Regions from separate parts of the Homo sapiens genome. Here region 2 is linked to region 1. A link means that fine-mapping ties the variant in region 1 to the expression of a gene that starts in the linked region. Tissue or cell type: caudate. Region 1 holds a variant in brackets; the other region holds the start of a gene. All regions are shown on one strand. Distances are between the middles of the regions. Region 1 overlaps LRIG1 (leucine rich repeats and immunoglobulin like domains 1). Region 2 holds the start of LRIG1 (leucine rich repeats and immunoglobulin like domains 1).

The links. PIP is the estimated chance that this variant, and not a neighbour inherited with it, causes the effect.
Region 2: it holds the start of LRIG1, and the variant in region 1 is fine-mapped to the expression of LRIG1 in caudate (GTEx, PIP 0.98).

Annotation. Positions count from the first base shown.
Region 1 is chr3:66,427,956-66,443,109 of GRCh38, forward strand. The region is part of intron 3 of LRIG1 (leucine rich repeats and immunoglobulin like domains 1); the gene reads right to left. Among named protein-coding and RNA genes, the nearest start is that of LRIG1, 65 kb to the right of the region's middle. RefSeq lists enhancers at 7,760-8,350, 8,351-8,940, 13,248-13,995. The variant A/C (reference allele first, on the strand shown) is at 6,577.
Region 2 is chr3:66,494,511-66,509,664 of GRCh38, forward strand. LRIG1 (leucine rich repeats and immunoglobulin like domains 1) reads right to left here and starts at 6,512. Exons shown (of 19, transcript NM_015541.3): 1 at 5,680-6,512. The coding sequence starts at 5,897. RefSeq lists silencers at 1,195-1,489, 5,712-5,921, 5,942-6,021, 6,062-6,201, 6,222-6,881 and enhancers at 5,608-6,108, 6,109-6,609.

The DNA of each region.
Region 1 (15,154 bases):
TAGCAGTAGTTAATTCTTTTCTATCACTGTACGATATTTCTATTGACAGAACATACAGCAATTTATTTTTTCTTTCTATTGTTGACGGACATTGAGTTATTTCCAATTCAGGCTATTGCAAAAATCACAGCTATGAACACGGACTTGTCTTCTGCACTTGCTTTCTGGTGCATGTCTGCATGCATTTTTGGCAGGCGTGCAATGTCCAGGCATGGAATTGCTACTCAGGTCATTGAGCTTGCATATGTCTGGCCTTAGCAGACACTGGTAGTTTTCTTTTAAATCAAGTCCCCCAGGGTTGAAATGAATCTGAAAACCATTAGCTCCAAGTGCCCTGTTTCATGCTGCTTCATTTGACCACATTCTCAGATGCCACTGCCCTCATATGTCCCCTTTCTGACCCCTCCCCAAAAAACACATTAGGAATATAGCCTGGGGCCACCGAACATGGCCAAGCTCAATCTAATCTTCTTCAGGTGTCCAGTAGAATTTTTTAAAATAAGTGAGGGCCTAATGATCACAAAAAAAAAAGAATAATTCTAAGTCTCAAAATTGGCAAGAAATAATGTTGATGCTAAAGTCCACAGCTTACGATAATGCACTTGTGCCAGGACCAATGCCCATACAGAACTTGAAAATTAAGATGAGACATTTTTCAAGAACAAGTGAATGCGGAAGAGCTTTCCTAATCCAACTTGAATAAAAGTCTCCCTTCTCAGAATGACAGTTGAAACCATTTCCCTCTAGCCTGCTTTACATCCATCTTCTTAAAAATTAAAATCAAAATCATTTGTTCTATTGCAGAAATTGATCATTTACTCAAAGAACTGCTGTCTCGTAAGAAACAGCCCAGCCTGGGTTATTTGCTGGACAGGAAATGAGAATCAGAATAAGCAGGTCTCTCTCTCTTGCTTGTTCCCTCTCTCTTCCCCTGCTGCTGGTGAATCACCAGTTCCCTGGGGAATTTTGGCAGATTCTCAGCCTGGCTGCAGATGACGTTCCAGATCTGTTTATTCAGGTGGAGACTGGATAAAAAACAAGAGCAGCCCAGTGGCGGGATAAACAGCCTCCGCCAGGCAGGGTCAACCTCTCCAAAGGCAGGACTGGGCTGTGTCAACCAACCTCCCAACCCGTTCACTTCCTTTAGGGTCACCCTCCCCTTTGGGTCTTCAACAAACAGCTTCCATTAACTCCTTGCAAAGACGACCCAATGTCCCATCCCCATGAGACTACCTAACCCCAGGGACCTTGCTACAGCAGATCCCATTTGGTTCTCCCACCCATCAACTTACACCCATTGAACTGAAAGCCCCGGATCCCTGAAACGAAAAAATCTAGGTACGATCAACAGCTGGCCACCACTGTTCTGTGAAGTCTAGAGTGACCCAACTCATGAATGACCCAGGACCCAATCCAAACTATCAGAATGTTCTGCATTTAAGATGCACAAATAAACAAGAGCAGCAGCAAAACTCCTAAGGAAATACACATTGTTGAGTAAAAGATGCCCATCTGAAAAGACTACCAATTGTATGATTCCAAATGTATGACATTCTGAGAAAGGCAAAACTATGGAGACAGTAACAATATTTAACTGCCAGAGGCTGGGTAGAGAGAGATGAGCAGGTTCAGCACAGGAGATTTTTAGGTCAGTGAAGCTATTCTGTATGACACTGTAATGGTGGGCACATGTGATTATACATTTGTCAGAACCAAGACTGAACTCTAATGTAAACTATAAACTTTAGTAATAATGGATCGATATTGACTCATCAGTTGTAACAAATGTACCACACTAATGCAAGATGTTAACAATAGGGGAAACAGGGTGGGTGTGTGTGTGTGTGTGTGTGTGAGGGGGAGAGAGAAGAGATGGCGGGGGCATATGGGAACTCTCCGTACTTTCCACTCCATTTCTGTAAACTTACAACTGCTATAAAAGTCCATTAATTAAAAACAAAACAAAACAAAACCTCCTAAAGTATTAAGTAGTCCTGCAGTCTCGACTGGGTAGAATATAAACCGCACACCGGCTAGGAATTTTTAGTCTATCGTATTGACTGCTATAGCCTTAGCCCCCAGAATAACGCTTAGAACTTAAAAGGTACTCAATCAATATTTGTTGAATAAACAAACAAATTACAACTTTAGTTCAATGTCTTACATTCACCACAACAAACCTGAACCAAGGAACATTACTCAGGAAAAACAAAACAAAACAACAACAACAACAACAAAAAAAAAACACTGAGGCAGGACCAACCATCCAATTAAAAACTTTTAAAAAGAAAAAAATTTAAGACACAACGTGGAGTTAACTTTTTTAAAAAAGGTAGGGAAGCTGACAGACCTATTTAAAAGCAAATGTCGAATACGATGGATTTTCGATTTTCAAATAGCACGGGGTGGGGGTTACTTACGCATTTCCCACATTCAATTGAACCCCAAACACTGGCCCTCACTGGCTTGCAATGTTGAGACAATTATGCTTATCCAAGGCTGGCCAACAATCTCTCCCTCACTCACTTCTAGCCACAGCTCGGCCCTGCCTGAGGTCCCCATCCACACGCCTCCCCTGGGAGTTCCACGTGGACACTGCTGACCCGAGGAAGCTGTACAAGCCACATATGGATCACATTCCCAGGGAGAAAGGCTATGCCATCCTAACATGGGCAGTGACTTCTAAGGGGCTTGAGGAGTTAGTTCCATGTCCACACGGAGGTCAGCTGTCTTGGCATCTGGGCATGGCAAAGCAGTACCAGGTTGGGCTAAGAGATGAAAAACCAGGCTCAAGTTGGGCCAGAGATGGACAATGAGCCACTTCCACCAGAATTCCCAGCCACATATGCCCACCTCTGGGTCAGAAGAGCCAAACGTATTTATCGCTTTTGCTCAGGGCCAACATAGACACTTGCTTCTCTCTCAGGGCTGTGTTTTCCCCCAAATGTATCAATACATCCCTATTTTCTTCCCCCTTTGTTTTCCTTTCCCTGGTGACCTGCTACCCCACACCCCAGCACACTGATGGTGTTCCCTCCACCACACCGAGACCCCGCCACAAGCTCTCAGCCCTCGTAGAGCACAGGCCCCACCCTGAAAGTTGGCAGAGCACCGGGCTATCAAGCTGTGTCATGTGGAGCCAGCAAGCCCGGCACAACCGTGGATCCCGGGTACGGCACAGCTGAACTGAACCCCTCTGATTTCCCTTTGAGAAGAAGGCTAAACATACTTCATTACAATTGTCAGGGCACATGTGTCCCTGCCTGTTCAGCTCTGCCCCTTGAGGGAAGGAGGTAAGAAAACCAGGACACAGAATGAGAGACATGGATTCAACCAGACTCCAGGGGCTGAGCAACTGTTTCTGGACAAGAAAAGCAGAAAAGGTGAGATGGCAACGATCAAGAATGAGGTGATGAGAGTGTCCCTTAAGGCCAGGGACTAACCCCAGAAATTTTAACCAAGAAGCGTCCGCACTACCCACGTTGGAGGGTATCAGGAGGCTGCCATGCATGGTTTTCTTCCAAAGAAGGCTCCGCCAACTAGGGTGAGGTGGGAAGTCCCGAGCCCAGGGGTGTGAAATGATGGAGATACTGCACTTCACACAGCAAGGACCTCCTCTGCCCAAGTTCCACAGGGACTGGTCAGCAACTGGGGGAGGGGGTCACCCAGGAGTCCAAGACCAATGAGCTCTGACATGAGCTATTGTGGTTTCTGTTCCTCTGACCTCACCAACTAGGACCTGAAAAAATGGAACCACTGTTGAGAAACATGCTGACCTCACGCCAAATTCCCAAAGGGAGCAGAATGAACCTCCTTCTCACAGCCACCCTTCCATCTCAGCCTTGGGCAAAGCGGTCTGCAGCACTCACACACCTGGAGACTGTCCATGCCACCATGCTAAACCAAAAGCAGGGCACACAGCCCACCAATTCACATGACTGTCCCTCTCTAGAAGATACACGTAGAAAAAAAGATAGGGAATACAGGATGTTGTTCTCACAGTACGATGATAATGGAATCCCCACCCCATTTTGCATACTGCCTGTCAATTATGTGACATTAAATTTATATTTACAAAGCAGTTAATGAAAACGTAGACAATGAACTTTGGGACCTAATCCTTAAGTGCAGAGCAGACTAAGAAGTGTGGTGGAGAGCTGTGTAGGGTTGGTACAGCCCAGGGTGGCCTGAGCATTCCACCACCAGTCCACCAGGCACAAAGGAGGGTTTTCCACACAGAACCTCCTCCTGAACCCCCTGCCCCCGACACTCTCATGGCACAAAAGCCTGCTCCAGGTGGTGCAAACTTCAAAGGGCCTTTGTAGCCGGAGTCTGGAATGGAGCCCTGGTGCTTCTGCGGCCTCCAGGAAGTGGTTCCAATGCTGCACAGGGCCATGGATGTCCAGGGAGCTTGCCCTTGATGCTTAGCTATGGAGGAGTCACACTGCATTTTCTTTCCAGTAGAAGGGGTGGCAGGAGTAGCCATAATGGCAGGAACAGTGGGAACAAATCTAACATTTTGTTAGTGCTTACCAGTAGCTAGGCGCTGGCTTCGCTCTTAACATCTTCCCTCATTTAATCTTCATGACAACCCCAGAGGCGGCCACTATTACCGTCCCCATTTTACAGATGGGGATGCTAAGGCACGGAAAGGTCAACTCACTTGCTGAAGGTTACACAGCAGTAAGCAGTGCAGTTGGGACTGGAGCCCGGAACAGGAATCCATATCCCACACTCCTAGTCAGGATGTGGAACTGCCTCACCAGGGAAGCGGGCAGAAGAAACCTGAGGAAGACAGCTTCTCTTGATAGCACCCCATACCTCCCACCTCTTCTCGGCATCCACCAGGGACAGGGATAACCCTACACTGGGGCCACACCATGTGACTGGAGCAGAGGCAGGACCTGACTCTGCAGATACAGAGGGAACAAGAAGGGGAATGTCCTGTCGCAAGCCACTGTTCATCCCCAGTCCTGCCAGGGGCCCACACCCACACGTAGGCTTCCAGGCCCTCAGCCCACAGCATGTCAACACAGCATTGCCAGAGGGCCCAGCCAGACCACCTCTATTTATATTTAGGATGACTGGAGTGGTCAGCGGCCATGTCCCCATCCTAAACAGGTGGGTGAGAGTGGCTCTTATTTCCTCAGGCAGTAAGTATAAAGGCACAGAACTGAGCACTCTCCAGGGAACAAAAGAAACTTGTTCGCTCATTGCTTACCACCACGCCAGAGAAGCCACCACCTACTCCAGAATCAGAGAGGTTAAGACCCTGGTATGAAGTCACCCAGCTAACCAAGATGCAAGCATAGGTATCCTCTGACTCCAGGCTGTGCCGCTCTCTGGAGTGACAGTGGCACAGTAAGCCAGACCAGACAGCCTGCGGCTATGAAGACAGAGAGGGGACTGTGGGTGCTGCAGCGCTAAAGCTCCCTCTGAGGTTACACATGGGCCCCTCACCTCTACTGGCCACTGGCACATTCCCTGAGATTCACATGCCAGCTTCCTGACAGCTCTGCAGTTCCAGGCAAAGGAGGAAGCTGTTTCAGCACTTGGCTGCAGCCTCTAAGACAAGATCCTCTCCTCCTCTGGGGAGGGATACCACTGATGTGCCTTTAAAAATAAAACCAGGCCTGCTTCCTGCCCCAACTGAAAGACTTTGATCTCCCAATCATACGATTTACAATATCTCTTACCACGCAATTTCTCAAGCCTTCAGCATATGACCTGACAGTGCTCCGGGAGGGTTAAGGATGGGTATGGGTGGGATTGAGGAGTTGGCCCTTTAACGCAGCCCTTCCTCACCCACCCCAAAAATGATTTGTTACAACACCAAAGTGGCACTGTCTGCAGCACCCCTTCTCTGTACCCCAGAACCATCTCAACCCGTGCCTTGTCCATGCTGGGGTCCTATGAGAAGCAATTCTTGCTGTTTCTTTTGTGGAACCACAAGCTTCAAGTTTCTTCCCTATTTCAGGCTTTTAAAAACATGTCATCATGAACTTACATGCAAAACATAAAACTACAGATCTTTTAAGAGAAAACACAAGAGAAAATCTTTGGGATCTACAGGTAAAATTCTTAGACCTGACGCTAAAAGCACAATCCATAAAAGGAAAACTTAACACTTATTAGGCTTTATCACAATTAAAAATGTTTGTTCAGTGAAAGACTCTGCTAAGATGAAAAGACAAGCTACAGATTGAGAGAAAGTATTTACAAATCACATATCTAACAAAGAACTGGTATCCAGAATATATATCCAGACTATACAAACATCTCACAAAACTCAAGAGCAAAACAACAACAAAAAACAACCAAAAAATCCAATTAGAAAATGGGCAAAAGGCATGAATGGACATTTTACCAAAAAGAATCTACAGGTGGCAAACAAGCAAATGAAAAGATGCTTAACATCATTGGTCATCATGCAAATAAAAATGAAAACCATAATGAGCTATCACTGCACACCTATCAGAATGGCTGAAATTAAAAAAATACAACACCACGGTCAGGCGCGGTAGCTCACACCTGTAATCCCAGTACTTTGGGAGGCTGAGGCGGGTGGATCATTTG[A/C]GGTCAGGAGTTCAAGACCAGCCTGACCAACATGGCGAAACCCTGTCTCTACTAAAAATACAAAAATTAGCCAGGCCTGGTGGCGTAAGCCTGCAATCCCAGCTTCTGGGGAGGCTGAGGCATAAGAATCACTTGAACCCAGGAGGCAGAGGTTGCAGTGAGCAGAAATCATGCCACTGCACTCCAGCCTGAGCAACAGAGCGAGACTCTGTCTCAAAAAAATTAAAAAAAAAAAAAAAAAAACACACCACCAAATGCTGGCCATAATGTGGAGAAACGGAATTGCCTATACACTGCCGGTAGAAATGTCAAATGGTATGGCCATTCTGGAAGAGTCTGACGGTTTCTTAAAAAAACTAAACATGCAACTCCCATATGACCTGTCAATTGCACTCCTGGGCATTTATCCCAGAGAAGTGAAAATTTATGTTCACACACACAAAAGAAACCCAAACACAAATGTTCATAGCAGTATTTTTTAAAAGCAGCCCCAAACTGGAAACATTCTAGATGTCCTTCATCGGGTGAATGGTTAAAGTACGGCACATCCATATTATGGAATACAACTCTGTGATTAAAAAGGAATGGAACGACACATACAATAACCTAGATGAACCTCCAGGGAATTACGCTGAGTGAAAAAAGCCAATCCCAAAAGGTTATCCATACTTTATTATTCCATTATATAAAACTCTAAATGAAAAAACTACAAATTTGGAGAACACATTAGAAGTCAACCAGGGGGGGCTAGGCATGGTGGGTCAAGCCTGTAATCCCAGCACTTTGGGAGGCCGAGGCAGGCAGATCACTTGAGGTCAGGAGTTTGAGACCAGCCTTCCCAACAGGGTGAAACCCCATCTCTACTAAAAACAAAAAACAAAAAACAAAAATACAAGAATTAGCCAGGTGTGGTGGTGCATACCTGTAATCCCAGGTATTTGGGAGGCTGAGGCAGAAGAATCACGTAAACCTGGAAGACTGAGGTTGCAGTGAGCCAAGGTCACACCACTGCACTCTAGCCTGGATGGCAGAGCAAGACTCTGTCTCAAAAAGAAAACAAAAGACAACCAAGGGTGTGAGGGCAAGAAGTAAATGACTGTGGCCATAAAGGGGAGAGATCCTTGCAATGATACAAATATTCTGCATTCTGACTGCATCGATGTCAATATCCTGGTTATGAAAAGCTGTACAAGATGTCACCATTGGGAGAAACTGGGTTTAAGGGTACGTGAGGGATCTCCCCATATTACTTTTTTTTTTTTTACAACTGCATGTGAATCAACAATTATCCCTAAGTATCATTAAAACAACAATACAAAAGTGTCATGGCATTCACGGTGGAATCAGATGGAAAGTCTGGGGGAGTTCCCAGTGGAATCAGCCTTCCTGCTACTTTACTAGTCTCCAGCCATCCTTCAAACCAGCAGAAACTTACACAGTATGACTGAGGTCTCAGAGCCAAGCACCAACTACCACTGGGCTCTGTGTGATTTCTGAAATGTAGGGATATGCATGAACTGTTTAATTACTTCCCATCATTTAGGAAAGGGCTGAGGGCTGGGACTCCTAGAGACAAGGGTGTTGCTGATAAAGCTGAGGACAGCTAGCGTGGCCCTTGCCTGGCATCAGGGGTTGTCATCCAGCCCTGTGTCTTCTTCCAGCACTACTTGGCCAAGGAAGACGTGCCAGACGTGCATGCCCAGAAAGTGGCAGACGCAGGTTGCCAGACACCACACTCCCAAAGCATCATCCTTCGTATACTGGCCTTGGGAGGTGTTCCATGGAAAGGGTGCTGGGTGCAGGCAAGCTCAGGAAGGGGCATTTCCTCCCCCGCCTCTTGCAGACTCCCTCAGCAGGTCAGCAAAGAAAAGCGGCTTAGGAGAGATGATAACAACACCTTTCACTCGGCTTGCTTTGGCATTTGCTAAACTTACATGACCACAAAATCCTTTTCATGAAACGACCATTAACATCCCACAGAACAAGTATTCCAGGTGGCTCACTACTCACTATCTGTGGGAAACACCACGTCTCTCCCCCTCATTTGAGGTCAAAAGACATACAACGCAGAGCCCGGGGGTCTGGTGCCAGCCTCCAAATGAAGCCAAACTGTGACAAGCCTGCACAGGAAGAACTGAAGAGGAGGGGGGAATATATGCCTGTGGTAGCGAAGTCTAAACTTCATGGATGTGCATTTAGAGACAGGGAAGCAGCACTCTCTACTGCCAGGGGAACGTGAGGAGTGGATTTTATCATTCTCTAGGTCAGCACCTCTCATGCTCCCAAAATCTCCCTTCCTACCTCTGAAAGAAAATGAAAACATAATAGAGCTATGATGAAATGATCTTAGGAAGATCTCTGCTTGTCCTTGGAGACTCAAAGGGAACATCAAGCACTAAAGGCTCTGAAATGTTCTGCAGGAAAGAAAGGTGCTCACCTTCAACTCTGGGTTTTCTGAACTTTCTGAACACAGAGCACTCTTTTCCCCCTCAATGCCATCTACTGGCACCTCTAGAATCCAGGCACTCCTTAATGTCATCTTTTACGCAGCCTGCTGCACCTCCCTCATTTTCCTTCCGTCTCTGCAGTGGGGAACGGGTGGCATCTCCCAGCATGGGCTGGACGCCTGCAGGGATCTGCAGTGACTCTCCACCTTCGCTTCACAGAAAGCCTTTCCCAAACCACCTGCTGGCCCCTCAAACAAGCGAGCAGAGACTGGGAGAGCCCTTTTTTGACACATCTGTGGTAAGGTAAGAGCAATTTCTCATCTAAGCAAACAGAGGCTTGAAAAGCTGCTGCTAGAACATGGCAGAACCAGGACTCAAACCCCAATAATGAGCCCTGGGGGCAAGCCCTGTCCACCTCTGGGCCAGGCGGCCTCTCACATGGCAGTTTCCACTAATACTTTTTCTCCCTTGACACCCTGCCTGCCTCTTCAGTAAATCCAGGCAAGCAAGACTTATCCCCTGGCTGGAGAGCCACGCCCTCCAGCACCCCTCAGCAGGCCACTTCTACTATAACGTGCCCAAGCCTGTCTCTCCACCTTGAATAAGTATCTAAAACAACCTAGTGTCTGCCCCATACCCCACAATCACTTATCCTTAAGATGACCCTTCCACTTGGTCCCTCAGAGTCATTCATCCATACATGGATGGGATGCCTGCTACATGCAGCTGCTGCAAGGAAAGACGGACGTGGCTACTGTGCCATCAGCCCCTCACCCCAGCCCCAGAGGAGACAGAGGGATGTCATAGGTGCAGTGGCAGAGGGGAACACAACATCATGGGGGGAGGAGGTCAGAAGAGGGGCGGCTATTCCAGATCAAGGTAGCAAAATGAAGCAGGTACAGGATCCAGAGACACACCCAGTGTGGGCTTTCCTTACGCACAATTTAGAGGTGGGAGAACAGGAAGAAATGGAGCCAGGGCCAACTCTGAAAGAGCTGGGACTTTGTCCCATAGAGGATGGGAAGCCACGAAGGGACCCTTCATTCATGTCTTCGTCAAATATTGATGAAGGTACTTCATTGGGTGGCTGGTGTGGAGTGGGGAGGGATGAGGGCTGCCTCAGAGCCACATCTGGATGCTTGGGAGCCAAGGCCTTGGGGAACCCCTGTAGAGATGAGATGCAGGGCCCAGATTTGGCACCGGACCCGAAGGGCCTGCTAGGGTGCTACCCCCTGTCCCACTCCACGCAGACTCTGCAACATAGAGCACACAGCTCAGCCGGCCTTCTCCACAGAATTCATAAACATGTGAGCCTGCCAGGAACCTGGGGCCCCAGAACTACAGGGTCACCCACAACAGCAGTTCTCAACTAGGGATGTGAGTCTGTTCCAAAGAACATACAGCCCAGGCCTCCAGTAGGGAAGCAGCCATGTGTGTTTTTAACCCTGGTTGAGTATGGTTGATACTGAACCAGCCCCTCTCCTTACAGGTGAGGGAACAGAAGTCACAAAGAGAAGTGTTTTGTGAAACGTCCTATAATGGATCCATAATGTCAGAGTAGGGACCACAAGCCAAGTGCCCTGACACTCGTTCCTCTGAACACTACTGGTGCTAACAAGGGGGAAAAGGCCCTGTACACTCCAGGAAGGGATGTTTCCTCCCAGTTCCCAAGAGTTGGAATGAGCCTTGGGTTACGTCCCGACAAGAGGACGGTGAGAGGGCTTCCCCTGCAGCAGAGATACCACTGCAGAAATTCCAGCACCCAACTGGAGGTGAGCAAAAATGGACCAATGCCCTCTACTGAAATGCCCACAAAGGGATGGCGCTGTGAGAGGCCACCTGGTCCTCACCACTATGCCAACAACTCACGCCTTTTGGCTTTCTCTTCCTAGAGGTGACCCATGAGGCCACCAAGGCAGGGAATGCACATCTCTGCCATATCACCATTTCCTTTGATGACGTATTGAATCTCTCAGGGACTACAGCTCTTTTCCAGGGAATGGGGGAAAGTGAAGACAGGCACTGGGCTCTTACTTGGAACCAAATAGTTGCTATAGCATCACCAAATCAGGGTTCTCGTTAACACACACTAGAGGAGAGGAAGACAGAGCAGGGGCCAGCCTAGCCCGTGAGGAAAGCCAGGTGGTGAAAGGGTTTATCACAGCTGTCTGCAAGGCCATGGGGAAGGGGAGCCCCTGGAAGAACTGCGCCAAGGCCTCCCCGGGCCCAGCCCACGAAGCCCATGCTGGCTTTCTCAACACGCCAGCTCTCATTCCGATTGAGAAGAACCCAACAATTACGAGGCAGAAAAACTTCACTATGCATGCTGATAACCACTGTTTTTCCCCTTATAAAAAGTACATTTGATTTGCAGAAAAGTCACATTCTAAAAAGTCCAAGGGGAATTTTTTTTCTCATTTCCAAAGTTCTACTCTTTGCAACTTAACCTAGCATCCAATTCCAAACACAACCTTCACAAAATCCCATTATACAATTATCCAACTCAATTTTAGCACCAGAACTTTGCTATATTACAATAAAGCTTTTGGGTGAGATCCTTCAGTTTCTATATCATCTATTTACTTTTTTTTTTTTTTAAAAAGAGCCAAGTCTTACTTTTGAAGTTATAAAGAAAAAGGTGTTTAAGGAGCTTAGAATAAGTCAGTTTTGCCTATTGTTTTACTATAAAGAGAGTTTTTTCCACCATCATGGTGGGACATTTCTGACATATAGGTAGAATGCAAATGACAGTTGGGTGGGCTATCAGAAGAAAGAATGACCCAGATAAGGGGCAAATCCACAGTTGAATTCTGTGATCTCCAAATAAGGTGGGCAGGTCTAATCAGACCAAACACCCTCACCCGCGCACCACCAAAGCAACTTCCTCATCACGCTGTGGCTAACTGCACAGTATCTTCAAATTAAATCAACAGTGAAAAGAGGTAAACTAAAACCTCTACTAGGGATCCCCAGAGTCCTAAGTACTAAAATGAAGGCCAGCCTCAATATTTATTTCCCCTCCACCTGGTGAGAAAGAAAGAGGGGGAAAAAAAGGAGTGGAGGGAGGTGGGGGAGCCTGGGTATTTTAAATGATAGTTATGAGAGGGGAGGAGACAAGAGGAGGAACAATGCCTTTCAGTTGCAATTATCCAGCTGTGGCTTATTAAAGCTTTTGGCTGCACACTGAAATGACCTGGAGAGCTTTTTTAAAAAACCACCACAACGCCTGGGCCCAACACTCACCCCCTCTGCTCCCCAGCCCACTAACTCGAGGTTTTGATTTAACTGCCCTGAGACGTAGACATCTAGATTTTTTTAAGCTCCCTAGGTCATTCTACTATGAGTGAGAGCCACCGCTTAAACATTTGCCTAGCACTTTGCTGCTTGCTGCACCTACCCCAGGTAGAGAAACAGAAGATGACAAGAGAGGAGAGAAAATAAACTCTGCTGCTGTCCTCAACAGCTCCCGTAAGAGGAATGAACAGATACATATACGAGGGTTTTCTGTAAGCTTCAACTGGTTTATAGGAGGGTGAGCCATGATGGATATCTGCAAGTAAGATCCATTTTTATGGGATGTAAATAGACCCCTCTCCAGTCTCCAATACCAGGCGGCCTCCAGGGTTCAGTGTAGACAGCAGCAATGCCCCTCAGAGCACAGCAGCAAAAGCAGGCTTGCCTTGCCCACAACCCCAAAGGTGCTCAGTACAAAGCTGTCAGAGATAGCAAGAGTGTCTAACACTCAGTGCACGTTCAGTATATACCAGACACTATACTGAGGACACATACTGTTTAGTTAATCCTAACCACCACCTTATCAGCAAATATCATTTTATGAGTGAGAAAACTGAGGCCTGAGAGAACCTGCCCAGGTGACATAGCAAAGGTGATGCAGGCAGGACTCAAACCCAGATCTGATGGATACAGAGCCTTCTCTTAACCACTGTGCAAAAATGCCCCCTCTCTATAAAGCCCACATGATGCCTGAATCAGCGTAAGGTGAAGAGATCCATTTGTACCTACCTTTGTCCTACCGCTACGTGGAAAAGGAGCCCTGCTATTTACAAACTAACGTCACAGCAGCTGTCCCCGAGGAAAAAAAGTATCAGAGCCCCCAAAGAGACTCTACAATAGGACAGCTAGTTGGGCAGAAGCCAGTGGCCCCTGAGAGGGCAGCCCATGAGTACCTCTGGGGCTGCACACTTCACAGCACACATTTCACCTCCTGGTTGATGAAGTTGGGAAGAAAAAAAACCACAAACTGGCACCTTTATTTCAGCTGTTTGGGTTTGAAAGGCATCCAGGAAGTGAGGAAACTGCAGAGGAATTTGCCTTGAAGTGATGTCTTCGGGGGCAGATAGCCACTATCCGAGAATCTACTGGCACAATCGAACACGTTTGGGCTCTGCCGAGACCTGACGACAAGAGTGTTTTTCCTCACTGTACCTTTCACAGATGGCCGGCATAATCAGCTCTGAATTGACATGAGAGAGAGAGACAGGGAAAGATAGTAGGGGGAAGGACCTTCTGTTACTTCGCATCAGTGAAAGAAAATCATACCAAGAGCTACCCAAAGCAAGTTCACCTCGGGTCAGAAAGAGGCTTTTAAAGCAAGGGCATTACAGAGGCACGCAGCACCACTTTGGGAGATGCATGCTGCATTTGCAGGGTAGGAGCCTCTGACTCCACACTCCAGAGTATCATCGAAGCCTCTGGGCCACAATACCAAGGCTTCCCACACCTAGTACAGTTTGAAATGTCAGCACTTAAAATGACAAGACCCTTCTAGGCACCCAGACCACATACTTCCAAGTGTACAGTGAGCATAAGCCCCAGAGATGGAGAGAAATAACAGGATCCAACTTTGATGCTTCCTTGCTCTGTGACGTTGAGCACGTTACTTGCCGTCTCTGTGCTTTAGGTGCCTCATCTGTAAATTGTGCTTAACAGATCCTGTGTCTCATAGGACTGCAGAGGTGACACAGTAAGACAGGTCCCGGGAAGTCCATAGAGCAACGCCTGCCAATATCAGTGTACCATATATGCTGACGGTCACTATTTTTTCTTCTCAAAAGGCTGAACAATACAAGATTGCTGATGTCTGACCACTACTGAACAAAACACAAACAGTGATTTCATGGGACTCAATATACTGAGTCAACTATTCTATCTTTAAAAACTCTTGCCTTTAAACAAGCAGGGGGAATCCAATATTCCCTATGTATGGCCCAACAATGACAGGCCTTATGAAGGAAAGGCCCGGCATAAACACAAACACATTTCTTCCACTTGGGCTATAAAAGCTGAAAATGGCTCCCAGGTGTGAGCAGACACAATAGGCCCTGCCTTCTCTGCAAGGTCACCACACAGGTCAAAGTCAAGCCAGCCATTTTCAGATTAGGTGCATATGCACATGAGGCTTCCCAGTGGTAACTGGATTACAGAAGCCACCTGCAGGAAGTGAGGAGGGGGAGGAGGAGGAGGAGGAGGAGGAGGAAATGGTCCCAGTTGGAATGAGACTGTTGATATGGGCTGGAGCCAACCCCTTTCACACGGGAGATTGTGCAATGACAGAGCAGCTCCGCTTCCCGGCTCCATTTCAAGCAGCCCTGGAGGGTTTTCAGCACTCACTGCTGGAAGAAGCAGCACTTCCCCTCCGAGACCATCCACTGCTTCTCCAACATTGGGGAGCAACCCGGGTCCCCAGTGGATCTTGGGCTATATTTAAAGCTTGCATGGTCATCAGGAAAAGGGAAAGAAAGAGAGAAAGAGGCGGGCGGGGTGGTGGAAAGGAAAAAAGCCCTACGCTCAACAAAAGCTACCGAGTTTCCAAAAGAGGCAGTGATCTCTGTGACCAAGCTCCTATTCCATGGGATCTCCCCTTCCTCGGCTCCCCCAACCCCACAGCTGGTGTTCCCTTCACTTTCTCAGCAAATGACTTGCAGATGTACCTCTCATCTGGCTGGCTCACCACCCCCACTCTCAAAGAAAGGAGAAAAAAGGAAAGAAAAGAGAGAAGGAAAATGACAAGTCATGACTGTGTAATTTGGCAGGCTGGCTGCGGAGGCCACAGCAGCTCTTTTCCCAGCGAAAGGCTTGCTTAGACTGGGGGCAAGTGGCAGTCTGCACTA
Region 2 (15,154 bases), 67 kb after region 1:
GGAAATGAAAAGTATAAAACCCAGTGAAATGGAGAAACAGCTTAAAAAACTGAAGGACTTCTATGAACAGATTGAAGTTATAACTTGTGTTTCAAAAGACTATGCATAAAGTACTTAGGTAAAAACCATTGATAACAAATTATACAAAATATAAGAATATAAGAACATATAAAGCAAAAAGCCTTTGTATAAGAAAAGTTCACAAGCATACCCACCACCCCCTACAAAAAAGAGACACAAATTGCCGACTTTCAACTAGAAATTAGACCATCAATAAACTGCAAATTTTTTCTGCAATCTTTATTGATCCATTCATTTTGCTTAATAAGAATGGTCATGTATCAAGTATTTCAGCAAAAAACTTCTCAGTCCTAGTCATAATTGGACAATTAATTGGTCAGTCGGGACTGCTCTTCTAAACTGTGCAGCTATATCAAATTCTTTGAGCAAAACATAAATGCAGGTCCCAGAGGTAAACTATTATAAAAATGTTAACCACTGGTCTTCAAAGTGCTCTATTTCTTTCCAGAGGAGATAAGATCTGAGTTTCTTACCAATTTCCACACTTTAACTTGAAACAAAAGCACAAGATAACCACATAACTGACATACAAGAACTGAAGCCATGAGGTAGATAGAATGAACCCTAGTGGCTCAGTGTCATGCTTAAGTCATAAAAAATAACAGTAACGGTCCCTAAATTTCCCACAGGCTGGTAAACACTGGAGATTTTTAGATATTTGCCCTTCCCTGCCTGGGAATTTTTCCTCCACCCGTCCTCCCTCCTGTCTCAAGACAATGCCATCAGCCTTTGAAACTGCATCCATTGTAAACAGCTCTGAATATTAACACGGCCCAGAGTTCTGTTCGCTTTTAAAAGACCCCCAGGGTTTCAAATTGCAGTCACTGAGGAGGGGGAACGTACCCAGTGAGTAAATGTCACATAGCTCATTCAAAAGGAATTGAAAGTTAGGCTTGCTCGTGAAACTTAAAGTCCTTCTACCTATGGGGTAGGTCAGAGGAATCCCTTTTATGTTTTAAACAAACGAGGAAAAGAAGAAAGAAAGACTCTGATACAACCAACATCCTTTACTGCATATAACAACTTTCAATTCAATGAATCCCTCTTCTAGATTTCCCTCTCCTGTGCATGCCACTTTTTAAATAACTATAGGCTATTTTAAACAACCTCCACCCAGCCTTCCTATCTAACAGACCTTCAGGGCTTTAGCAGGTGCACAGCACTGGGCCAGGTGCATTGTTAAGTCACACAAAACCCCAGTGCTCTCTCCTGCATTCCTGTCCACCCTGAAAGAGAGGAGGCTGAAGACTTTGCACCAAGGAGACACCCCTGCAGAAGCGGGAGAGGCCCTTTCATTGTGATCATGGTGTCTGAGGGAGAGAAAGGTCAGCCAGAGGCCGTCCCAATGGACTCAGGGAAGCTGCAGGGAGAACCCAGGCAAAGTAATTAACACTGGAGGGAGGAAAGCTTTCAGCTAACGGTGCAGAGCTGGGGAGATGGGACATGAGGACATCCACTAGGAACCAGCTCTCATCACACTACACTTAATTTTTCTTCATCTTTCTGAAGATGGTTCCGAGAATTACTGCTGATAATATGTTCAAAAGTCCAAAGTCTGTAAAATCTAGTAACCAAATATAATTATGCAAAGAGACAATACACTACTTTTTAAAACAGTCCCTTGAAAAGCGGGGCAGGAACAGTTCTGACATGTCCTAAAGGCAAGAGGGACATTGTGTGCCAATACACAGTTAATTTACATGGGGCGCTGGGAATCTCTGGACACTTCCTACTTTAGCAGTACTCAAAGAATAGATATTACGGCCACAATTTCATATCAGCAAGACTTAAACAGTGTGCCTTTTTCTCACGACAACCAATATTATTTGCCAGAAATCTCACCTTACTCAAAAAAAGTTGTCAGAGAGCTATCAACAGACAAGTTATCCCCCAACAAGAGGGAAGACACTTGTTGCAAAAGAAAAGGACTCTGAGCTCAAGCTAAAGTTCCCTGAAACTCTAAGAGCACTTGCACCTTTCAGACTGTATTCTTGGCAATTAACCTGTGTTTAAAATGCTCCCTATTCCAAACAACCCAGGTTCTTCCCTGTCCCACAAATCGGAAGACTTTTGTTTCAAAGTCTGTTGAGTTTAAGTGATATGGAGAAGGAAATATTTCAGGACCATCCATACAACAATCTACTTTAAAAAAAAAACATGAATCTCAGTTTAGGTTCCAGAACAATTTGGTGATCTGCACTTTAAACTTAATTTGCATAAACAGGATGGAAAGTATTTTCCAAACCCTTAATTCACAACACCCTGCACACCTGGGCCTTCCAGCACAGCTGTAAAATTTGAAAGACAAAGGCCCTCTTTGCTTCCCAACCACAATGGCAACCACAGTTGGTGTTTATTTTCTAAGGTAATCATAAGTACCACTTCTTTGCCAAAACTGGCAAGGTTAGATTTAAGCTAACTGATCTGGTATTGCAAACACATAGTACAAAGAGATCAAAATCAATAAACTCATCTTAATGTGGCTTAGGATAACCACACTTGGTATACACTTTTGTGAATATCCTTGCTTTAGAATGCTCTGTCATCTTCACTCCACACTGAGAACAAAAATCAGGGTTTGTTCTTCCTCTAGGCCTGCCTTCCTAATCCTAATCCCAATCCCAATGGGCTACCATTCAGCTCTCAGGACATTTAAACTAGCAACATTTTGTGACTAAACACTGCTGAAATTTACGGCACAGGTAAGAGTCTAAGGTAAACTGTATTTAATACTTCTTAAATAGCTTCTGAAGCCATGCTCTCAAAAATAATTTCAAAGAAAGCAAATATCTGAGTTCTAAGAAGTTCAACTTCTTCTCAGGTTCTGGGAAGTTGGAATAAGGCTTGGCAGTGGCTTGGTGCTATTTATGAATGTGCTAGTTGGACCATGCCAATCTCACCTACGTAATGGGCTGGGAGACTTAAATTATGGCTTGACTACTACAACTGTAAGTTATTGTGCTGAAAAGTTATCCTCAGGCCCCAAAAATGAACCGATTATCATTATCCATTCTGTTTCTTCTATTCACACTGCATTTACATTCACTATTTAAAAGTTTTATTTTTCTTATATCAGGCCTAGAAGCAACTTCCACATCAGACGCACTGTTTACAAAAAAAAAAAAAAAAAAAAAAAAGGTCCCATAAAGCCACAGGTCCTCTGCTATCTCAAACCCACAGCCTGAAGTTGTTTGAACTAGCTGCAGTAAATCCAGTTCATGGGTTTATAAACTAGCTCAAAGCATTTTCTAGACACCGTGGGCTTAGAGCGTGTAAACTTGGTGAAACTACAAGATATTTCATTATATCATATACAGACACTTTCTCCCCTAAAGTCTTGCTGAATCTTAGCCAGGAATACAAACCATATAAATACTCTTATGGAAATTCCAGAATAAGACTCACGGAGACTAATGATTTAAATTCAGAAGTCTGAAGTCTAGAAAAAAAGAACACATTTGCTTGATTTGTCCTTAATCAGAAATAAGAAAACTTCACAAATATTTTTCAAAGGATAGCCATTTTGCACTGCATACTGTGTTGCTACATACTAACCAGAAATCATGCTGCTCATATCTTAAAATCGAATCAGTCAACACCATAATCAGTATACTAAAGTCTACTGATGCTCAAAATACCCACTTTGGTATTTCTCGATCATCAAATGTGTGAGTAAAAGAGAAGGACTTCAATTTTGAAGGTATTTATGCCATGTGAAATGTCACTCCTAGGCAACAGAAAGCCTAAAGAAATAACCAGTATGTTTTGCTCCAAAAATTAAAGGGCAAGGCAAAGTGGATCTTGTGACCATAGGAAAGTGCAAATAAGAGGACACCCTGCCCTCTCTGGGAAGTTACTTCTGTGGAACTAAGTGCTTTCCCCACAATGCCACTGACACATGGCATTGGGAGTCACTCTTCCAACAGGTGAACACTTAAGAAGTTAATCTGATTTTGCCCACATGATTCTATTTAAAAAAAAAAAAAAAAACTACCGTATGTAAGGGAAAAATCACAATACCCCAGACTAAATAAGAGACTACCTAAGGACAATACTGGGCTCTATCTCCCAGTACTTCACAAAAGCTCTGCCTCCACCCTACGACCACTGATTTTCACTAACTCAGTAAATTCCACAGAAGAAGTAGATATTGAAAACCTAACTGTAACTAAAGGGTTCCTGGTTGTCTTCAGAACTCTGTAGTACTTGTTCATGGAGCAGTGTCTCGGGCCAAGTTAAAGATTCGTGCCCCATTTTGAGAGGTACAGGATCTTTACATTTAAAAGGAATTAACTTTTCTTCCCTTCACGGTAGTCAGAACACAGGCCACATTTTCTTCGATCAAGCCACAGGTGCTGGTTACAACTTGTGACACCAGTTTTCTCTTTTTAAAACAGCCATAGTCATGCCTAAGGTTACTGCTGTGCCTTTCCTATGTTCTAGGAAAAATGTCCAATTATTCAACCGAAATGCGGACTATTTAAGCTAGGCCTTTTCTGGAAAGGTACTAATGGTTCTACAGAGATGCTAATTACCCATAACTGAACGGGATTTGACTCATGCACCAGATTTGTTAGAAGTAAAAGAAGACTATTCTATTCTACCATGTTTACACAGAAGTCTAATGCCTTTTTTTTCCTGTCAAATCTCCTGTAAGAAGTGTCCCACTAAGTCCTAATAAGCCCACATCCTGACAGCACAGAAAAGAACCTCTTTCGGGTGAAACAAACAGCTTAAATCAGCCAAGCCCCTGGCACCCTCTCCTGAAGCAGCACTTCTCCAAAACTCATTTGCACCATTTATGGAGGAGAGAGTCTTGAGGGTGGGCCCCACCCCACTGGATCATCAAGCCCAATGGGGCCCCAGGGAACACACAGGAAGGGTCTGGAACACAGTTCCGTAAAATGCCAAACAGGCGTAAAAGGACAAACTCCCAGCACTCACAGGTCGCCAGGAACTGTCAAAGCCCTCTAACTCAGGGGTCCTCGGGGGAAGACTGCCTTCTGCCCCGCACAGAGAGGCAAGTCAGGCCACCACGGTCTTCGGGGATCAGGAGACGGCTACACACACTATCAACTAATAAATAATGTAAACGAAAGACTGGACCCAACAGTCACCTTCATTCATTACCCACTGGAAGACCAAGGAGCTCAGACACCAAATAGTTGGATTACAGGAGAGGAAAAGGAAACGCACCCACATACCCCCACAGACTTCTTCACACTCTTCTCCAGACGTTTCCCACCCACCCACCCGCAAACACACTCAGCTCCAGACTCCCACTCACTCACCCCCAGATGGCCCGCACGACGCGTGCTGGCTAACCCCCAAATCTCTACGACCCACGCTCGCTCGTCTCCAGACCCCACGAGGCACGCTCTTCTTCTCCAGGCTCTCTCGCACGCCTACTCCCCCGGACCTCCACGCAGAATCTCCCTTCCGCCACTCCAACCTGACAGTCTTCCAACACGCACAAGCACGCACAACTCCACACACACAACCCAGTCCGCACCCCCTCCCTGAGTACGAACCCCCGCCGCTCCATCCCCAAGTGACAGAGCCCCGGGGCGCAGAGAGGGCGGAAAGGGCGGCACTCACAGGCTCCGCGTCCAGGAGGGCAGGTCCCCGGGCAACGCAGCCAGCCCGCGCCCACCGCAGTCCAGCGAGTCCCCAGCGCAAGTGCAGGCGGCCGCGCAGGGCGCCCGCGGGCCGGCCGCGGCGGTCACCGGCTCCAGCCGAAGCAAAAGCAGCCAGAGAAGGAGAAGGCAAGGCGAGCGGCGCGGGGCCCCGAGCCCTCCCCGGACCGGCCGCGCCATCTTGTCTGGAGCGCGCTGCGAACTCCGGGCGCGGGGACTGTGAGGACCCGAACGGCCGCAGACGCGGGCGGGCCCGCGGGGCGCTCCGCTCGGCTCTAGACTCCGCACCGGGGCATGGCCCCCGCCCCAAGTTCTCTCTGCGGCCGCGGCTCCGGCACTCAGCGTGCCCCCGGTGCCCGGGCCGCTCCGGAGCACCCGGCGGGGGCCGCAAACCCCGCGCCCATCCGGGCCGGCCGGCCCGCCCGCGCTAGCTGCGAACTCCGCCGATTCGGGCAAGGTGTACCCAGCCTGCGCTCTTCGTCCGCCCGGGGCACGCCGAGTGCCGCTACCGACACCGGCCGAGGGCAGTGCTGCCGCTGCGCCTGGAAGACAGGCGTTCAGCCCCGCAGCCCGAGCTCGGTGCCGGCAGGCATCTTCCTCTGGGCTCGGAGCGCAAAGCCGTAGACCTCGGGCTGGACGGCGCGGCCGGCCCCGCGCTGGGAGGCCCCAGTGCGCCTCGCTGTCCCCACGCCGCGGCCAGAGAGCGCGCGCGCGCGCGCAGCCTCGGGTTCCGCACGGCTCCTCCGCGCAGCAAGAGTCCCGCCGACCTCGCAGCCGAACAATCAGCCGCTTGCTGTTCGCCTCCCCGCGGCCCAGCCCCGGCCGGTCCCCCAAGCCCCGCCCCCGGCCGCTCGCCCGCACACACCCCCTAGGCTCCGCGCTCCGCGGCCGCCTGCTGGCCCACGTTGGATGCTTTGCAACAGCGCCCCGCCACGCCTCCCCGCCTGCTGCTCATTGGCTGCCGGAGTCCACCGTGGCCAGCCTCGAGGGCCATTGGAGCGCTCGCTGTGATCCCGCCCCTCCCGCTTCACCGGCTACCCCGCCCCCACACTCTTTTCCCACCCAAGGTGTGAAGGGCGGGAGACTGGGAGGAGAAAGGGAGGGACGGCCCCCGCCTCTTAAAGGAGACACGCAGGTTGTTGTTGGAGAACGGGAACGCGGGCTGGGGAAAGGAGGCGTGAAGATACGCCCTCTGCGTCAAGAAGGGGAGAGAAAGTTAAGAGGGTAAAACGCCCCCGTTTTGGGGCTGTCTGGCCCCAAGGCTTTTTACGTCCTCCTCAGGCTGCAAGCAGGACTGCAGATTAGAAGCAAACCCGCGTCCGTTTTCCAGGTTCCTTCCAAAAGCGAAGACACAGGTTTAAAACTTAACACATTTCTTCCTGACTGGGACATCCTTGGTTATTTCATTAGGCGTGGTCCCCTTCCTCCTCGAGCAGCCTGGAGCATCTGCTCCTGACTTGTTCTTCACGTCCTAAATCCAGCAATATGTCCTTGATTACTAAAATGAATGTGTGCTGCAGAAACCTAGTCTCAAAGGTGCACCCTCGGCCAGGAGTGGTGGCTCACGCCTGTAATCCCAGCAGTTTGGCAGGCCAAGGCGGGCGGATCACCTGAGGTCAGGAATTCGAGACCAGCCTGGCCAACATGGTAAAACCCCGTCTGTACTAAAAATGAAAAATAAAAAAATTAGCCAGGTGTGGTGGTGCACACCTGTAATACCAGCTACGGGAGGCTGGGACAGGAGAGCTGCTTGAACCCCGGAGGCGGAGGCTGCAATGAGCAGAGACTTGTCACTGAATTGTCACTGAATTCCAGCCTGGGTGACAGAGCGAAACTCCGTCTCAAAAAAAAAAAAAAGTGCACTCTCCTTCCCAGCTAGTGAGTTGAAGGGTACTTCTAGAAATGCTGCAGCCTTTGATAAAGGGGTTGCTTTGTTGTTGTCATTGGGTTTTTGTTTTAATCAGAGTCTTTTTAAGATAATTTTCAAGAAGCCATTGTGTATTCGTAAGAGACAGAGTTAAAGGAGAAATAATAGTTAACAAAGCTTCTAACTTTTGCTCTTAAAGATCAGACCATAGTAGTAGTGTGTTACGATAGTACGTGGTAACATTAAGCAGACATACACACATTGAGAAAAAAAGAAAAAGATTACCACTGTAACATATAGCTGCCCTCTGGGCGTTTTGGTTTGCTAGTGTCTCATATCCCTTCCCAAGAGTATGCAAATTACTAACATAACTGCGCACATTGTCAGGAAGATTAAGCAGGTCAAGTCTGTTGAAAAACATTTGCTCCAGAACATTAAATCTGAGTTGTGTTTTATGGAAGTGGGGTGGGGTGGGAGGTAAAGAGGAGAAGTTGAACCTTAGGGAAAAAAGGCAAAAAAAAAAAAAAAATTAAAGGGTTTATTCCATTTTCGACACAATCTAAGAGGTTTGCTTTAATTGAGATGCACTAAATGTGTTAAACTTTCCCTCAGCCATAAGATCACCTCTTTTCTTTAGCCAAAATGTGATCTTCCTATCCCTTCCTCCCCTTTTTCCTTCTTCCCCTTCTGAATTCATTGCGCCTCATTTTTTTCTTGTTTAATTTTGCATGATCTCAGCAGTGATGCCCAAAGCAGTGCTCAAATATGTGGGTAAATCAATTCAAATCTAATTCCCAAGAAATATTATCAGAAAAATGCTGCACCTGACCCATCCCACCCAGAGCTTTAACCAGCTTTTATGTTTCATATGTAATCCAAATAAACATACACCTTCCATCTGGACGAGAAGAAATATGTCCTTTTGTTCTATCCCTTTTGGTAAATATAATAATAATAAGCAGTGGGAATGGAATTAAAAAGACCCTAAATTTATGAAGTCCTCTCAGTCAGTGTTTAAGTTTTACACAAAGAACACAAAACAGTAATTTGATGCAGAATACCCACAGCCGTTTCCTGAAATGAAACTGTCAGATCCTCCCTGTCCCCACCCCACAATAAAACAGCATATGCAGCAAAAAATGAATTGAACTGATTGAACTACTTGAGATGCTGACCTAAAATTATCTTTCAGGTTTGTCTCATTTCTAGTACTATAAAAGTGGGTAATTCTTGTAAAATGTTTTTTCAAATGTGTATGGGTGTACTTGTGAGATGCCTTTTTGGAATCTTAGTTTTCTGGAGGATAGAATTTAAGAATCTGCAAGGTGAGGGAGTGCCCACAAATCTAAAGCATCCCTTGTGGTCTGGTTACCATGCAGCCAGAGAAAAGGATTCCAAAGCCGGGGCACACTTGGGGGGACAGGGCGCCTAAGCCTTGGCAGTTCCTCTCGTCTACAGCAAAGCATGAAGTCATGTCTGCTCCCCATACCATGTATGGAAGTTTGCCCACATACTAGCAACCTGCTTGTGATTGCAATGAGAGTGTGAACTTGGAGAGCAGTGATATCCAGCTCAGGGGGGAATTCATCTGCAGCCACCACCTAAGATGAAGGAGATCTCAACAACAACAACAGCAAATGTCTAAGGGAATCTATGTCTCTGCTCATAAAAGTGCAAGTCTTGGTCCATTCAGCACAGAGCAACAGTTGATTTGGGTGCTGTAGGTCCTTATTTTCCTCACACTGCAACTTTGATCTTTCTAAATGCTTATTCCTTAAATGAGTCATCCGGGGATTTTAGATTTTCCAGTTCATTTTCATCTACCCCAGGGATAGCATGGAATCAAACCCCAGTGAGAATCTCTGCAGGTCTCTCTTGACTCCAGAAGCCCTAGCAGTTAATCATCCTAAGTTAATCATGCTTGAGAGAGGAACCCAAAATCTAAATAGCCTGAAATCTATTGGGGAGAGAAGCAAATAACAAAATAACAAGAAAGAAGGTTAACCATAGGAATTTTTTTTTTTAACACAACTTCCTGGGGACTGAATTTGTGCCAGTTTGCTATAGTTCTAGGTGGTGGTCTTTAGTGGTTTTAAAGAATGCTGAGATTCAGAGGGGCTTTCTTAATGTTAGGTGAGATTTTACACTGTGTTCAATACATTAAAAAAGCACCAGGTCACCATTCAGGAGAGCTGGGTTCCAGCCAGGCCTTGTTATGGGTGAAACCTTTGACCAGTCATTTTCTGTCTTGGAGCCTCAGTTTTCTCAAATAGAAAACAAGGGGCTGGGCACGGTGGCTCACGCCTGTGATCCCAGCACTTTGGGAGGCCGAGGTGGGGGGATCACCTGAGATCAGGAGTTCAAGACCAGCCTGGCCAACATGGTGAAACCTCATCTCTACTAAAAATACAAAAATTAGCCGGGTATGGTGGCACACACCTATAGTCCCAGCTACTTGGGAGGCTAAGGCAGGAGAATCGCTTGAACCCGGGAGGCGGAGGTTGCAGTGAGTCGAGATCGCACCATTGCACTCCAGCCTGGGTGACAAGAGCAAAACTCCATCTCAAAAAAAATATATATATAAAAGAAAAATAGAAAACAAGGATAATGGTACTTGACCTGGGTGCTGAGTGAGTAAAGAAGGATCATTTTGATAAAGGACCAAAGGGGCATTATAAACTGTTTACATCTCATTGTTTTCAAGGTGTTATTGATTTGTTAACTCTGAAAAACTGAGAGCCCATATGTATAATGTAGATGGAAAATCTTAGCAGGTTGTTTCAGCAGGAAAGTTTCTTGTCCAGGAATGTGACAAAGGGTTAATAATTAGCTATGAAACCCCTGAAGACTTGCAGGGTGATGACAGCCCTGCTTTGAGCCTGTTTTCTATCTCTCTTCCAAGGAAAATAAAACTGTGTACTCATTAACTCCTTCGTCGCAATAATCTTGTCAAGGAGATGGATGGGTGGAGAAGGTAAGAGAGGAGGCTAATGAGTCTGGGAATAGAATATAAAAAGAGAAAGATTTTGAGATCTCCCCATCCCCCATTCCAACATTTGCCTTTGGTGGAGGTAGTTTTCTTGTGCAATCTCTGGCTATTGGAATATTGGTTAATGCCCAGACAGTGCCAAGCTGCAGCTGCTGCAGTTCCACAGCAAGAATGGTTGTTGCCTGCAGCTCAGCTGTGACCCTTCACAGGATCTGCCCTCCTCCACAGAGCACCATCGACAGGGGCCAAAAACCTTTAGAGTCCACTTTCTAACACAAACTAGAACCTTGACACTTGTCCTTGCCTTGTGAATGTGAAATGTTTACTGGTTCACTGAAAGGATGAAAAAAAATATGTCAAAGGTATGAGCATTTCATAATTCTGAGATTGAGATTCTGGAGTAATGGTCATTGTAGGAGGCAGTCCCTTACCTCTGACGGTGATGATGATGGGATGGACTAATTACATCATCACCAGAGACCGCACCTCTCACTCCCAATCTGCTGCCTTTGCAAATGTCACTCCGAGAAGTACATGAGGGCGAGTGCAGGGAGGATTCAAAGTTTATGCCTCACTGCCAACCACTCAGAACTAACACTGCAATGTATATAAAGAACAGCACATTGATCATAACATAATAATAATCTTATGAAGTCATATACCTTACATTTTTCAAAGCACTGTCACATCATAACAACAGCTATCATTTACGGAGCACTTTTTATATGTCTTTCATGTTGTTGAGTGCTTTATGTACTTTTTTCAGTGAGGTAGGAGCTAAGAAAAACGTTTAAGGCCACACAAGCTAATAAGTGACAGGGCCAAGATTCCAAACCAGTTCTGTGGACACCAAAGATCTATTTTGGGCTGGGCACGGTGGCTCAATTCCTGTAATCCCAGCACTTTGAAAGGCCAAGATGGGTGGATCACTTGAAGTCAGGAGTTCGAGACAAGCCTGACCAACATGGTGAAATCCCTTCTCTACTAAAAAGAAAAATATTAGCTGGGCATGGTGGTGCATGCCTGTAGTCCCAGCTACTCAGGAGTCTGAGGCAGGAGGATCACCTGAGCCCAGGAGGCAGAGGTTGCGGTGAGCCGAGATCGAGCCACTGCATTCCAGCCTGGGTGACAGAGCAAGACCCTGTCTCAAAAACAAAGAAACAAAAAACCCCAAAGATCTATTTTGACATTTGAGCCTCCTAAACTTTGAATATGAAAATTGTTATTGTTCCCACTTTACAGATGAGAAAGCTGAGGTTCAGTGATTGTCCCAAGGTCACGCGGCATCAGGAATAAATAGAATCTTAAATCACAAGTTTCATCACAACCACCAGCACACATATTTTATATTCAGTGAATGTCTTACGAAGTGTATCATGGAGCTTCTTTCTCAGGGATGCCATGAGAATGGATGTGATTTCTTTACTTTTTCATATTTACTAATAGATTTTCAAAGTTCCCTCTATGATTAATAAGTTAAAATTTTAAAGGATAAATATCTAGACTTTTCTCTCCCCCCATACCCAGCAGTACTTGTATAACAACAGTGGTTAACATTACTGATCACTTACTATGTGCTAGGCATTATTTCACATCATGGCTTAATTTCACTGAAGAATTCTATGAGATACCTTAGAGATTGTCATCTTACATATGAAGTTACTGAAACTCTGAAATCAATCCCCTTGCCCACATTATACCCTAATTAGGTGCTGAGCAGGAAGAGGCTCACAGCTAACCTACCCCAATCACACTCCCTCTCTTATCATTCTCACTTTTGATTATTTTTCCTGTTTATCTCTTCCTCCAGTCTAGTAGCTCAGTAAGTTAAAAGTAAGTTAAAAGACTGAGTCTAAATCCCTTCTTGGTATTCCTGTTGTCTAACACAATTCCAGGCACATGGTAGGCACAGAGACAATATTTGCTGAGTGAGTCCTGCCTGCCCTGCAAGGAGGGAGAATTATCAAGCCTCTTTCCTCCCCCATTTTATTTTATACATGCTTGCTATTCACATATGTGTGCTGACCACATCAATATTACCTGGAGCTTCTCAGAAATGTGAACCTTAAGGCTGGGCACAGTGGCTCATGCCTGTAATCCCAGCATTTTGGGAGGCCAAGGTGGGCGGATCACCTGAGGTCAGGAGTTCGAGACCAGCTTGGCCAACATGGTGAAACCCTGTCTGTACTAAAAATACAAAAATTAGCCGGGCATGGTGGCATGCGCCTGTAGTCCCATCTACTCGGGAGGCTGAGGCAGGAGAATCGCTTGAACCAGGGAGGCAGAGGTAGCAGTGAGCTGAGATCACACTATTACACTCCAGCCTTGGTGACAAAGTGAGATTCTGTCTCAAAAAAAAAAAAAAAAAGTAATTTCAAAAATAAAGACAAGCATGTGGCTGACATTATTGCACCTAAATTGAAGCGCATGCAAAACATCTGCTGCCCATGAGATTTTGGTAAAATCCTCTCGTGCCATTCAATTCTCTTTTCCTTCACCATGCATTCAGACTAATAAAAAGCATTTGCAAATTTTATAGCCTGTTATATTTGTTTCCAAAAGGACAGTTGGGTTTATGACACATTTCAAATTTATTATAAACCTACAGACAGACACATATTATATGCTTTTCACTGTCATTCTTATCCATGAGCTACATTCTTTAGATAATCATTTAAATATCCTTATTTCCCTGGGGGAGCTTGACACTCCTCTTGGATTTAGATGCTATAAATCAAAGAAAAGTCTTTGTCTTTTCCGCAACTCTTTCTTATTTGAAGTGCCTTGACTGGTTACTATTTGGAGAAGGCAGCTGTATAGAATAATTGTCTGCCGACGGCCACTAGCAGTTTCTCCCCTCAAGAGGCAAAGTCTATTTTCTCTCCCTCTTAAATCTGGATTGGCCTTGTGCCTCGCTCTGACTGATAGAATGCAGTGAGAGTGACGCTCTTACCAGTTCTGGGCCTGGCAGCTTTGTCTCTCACCCACTTCCTACCTGGAGCTGTCATGTAAGGAAGTCCAGGCTGCCCTCCTAGAAATAGAGGCCCTGGAGGAGAAGAGACCATGGAGAGAGAGAGGCAACGTGCAAGAAAACTGGGTGGCCCAGCCAACAGCCAGCATCATAACCCCAGACATGAGAGTGAACTCATTTTGGACCTTTTAGCACAGACCAGCTAAATGCAACTGCACAAATGAGCCTCGCCAACATCACATGAGCAGGGCTAAGCCATCCCCAAGGGTCTTTCCCAAATTCCTGACCCGCAAAATCATGACCAATAAAAAAAGCTCTTGTTTTAAGCCACTAAATTTTGGGGTGACTTGTTATGCAGCCATAGATAACTGAGATAACAAGTGTGGCTAAGTGAGCATGCAATAAAACGTGAGTGGATTTTGGGGGAGGAATAAAATCTAATCAAATAAACCCGTCATCAGGAGTGTCAAAAAAATTAGTGTTATCAGCTGACCTTCCTGACGTGTTTGTCAGGGCCCTTGATTGAACGCAACAGGCTAACTGGCTGATGCCATCGAACAAAACTTCTTAGATAATAAATATTCTGGTTCTTCAGCAGGCCACAAAACAGGTTCCCTTCCACTTCTCTTAGAAACAGGTATGAGAGAAATGCAGAGGATCTGCTTATTTATAAAAGGTATGTTCTCTTATGTAACCCCATGGCATCCAGGTAAAATAACTGATTGAGAGGATGAAATAATTGAAGATCTATTCTTCCCGAAAAGATCAGATAAGGCTTAACGTGTTTACTCCATTTTTCATATGGGACAAATAAATGAATATTTTAAAATGGAATCCTAGCCATAAAACTGACACTGAGATACAGAGTTTGGGGGTATGCTTTGGTAGCGGGTGACAGTGGTGGGGATTATATCTCTTAGCTGTGTGCTAACCTTTAAGTTCTGCAAAGCATAGCTTACTGCCTCCTTATATATTGTCTTGCACTCTTCTCCAGCTCTCATTTCTTAGAAGCCATCACTGTTAAGCAGTGCTGCTTACAAAATCAAGTTAGCTAAGTCCCTGCCATCAGAGAGTTTATAATCTGATGGTATTGTTGACTGCTAGGTCCCCAGGATCTAGAACAGTGCCTGACAAATAGCAGGCATTCAATACATATTACTGAACGAATACATGATCAAATGAATGAACGGTTTTCTGTATGCAAACCTCATTTTCCAGTCAAGGCTATAAGCAGCTCACAGGAAGCAGGCCCCAGAGCCACAGACTATTGGAAGACAAAGGGATTTCGTGTCTTTGAGTGCAGTAGGTCAGGGTGAAGCCTGCCGGATCATCAGATCTGCCAGGTCAGAAACTTCTAGTGACCAACCACCCAGGTTTGGAACTCAGGGGTTTCCCAGGTCATGGGACTTCAAGTGCTAAAATAGGAAAGTTCTGGAAAAATCAGGACAAATTGGCCACCCTAATTGTAATTCTAGTTTCTAAATGCACACTTAGAACCTTTTGCATGCCGTATAGCTAAGCTATATGAGAACCTACTACAGTATGCACCAGGGAATAACTTGAGTGGTTCAAATGCATCAACTCATTTGATCCTCCCTACAGCCCTATGA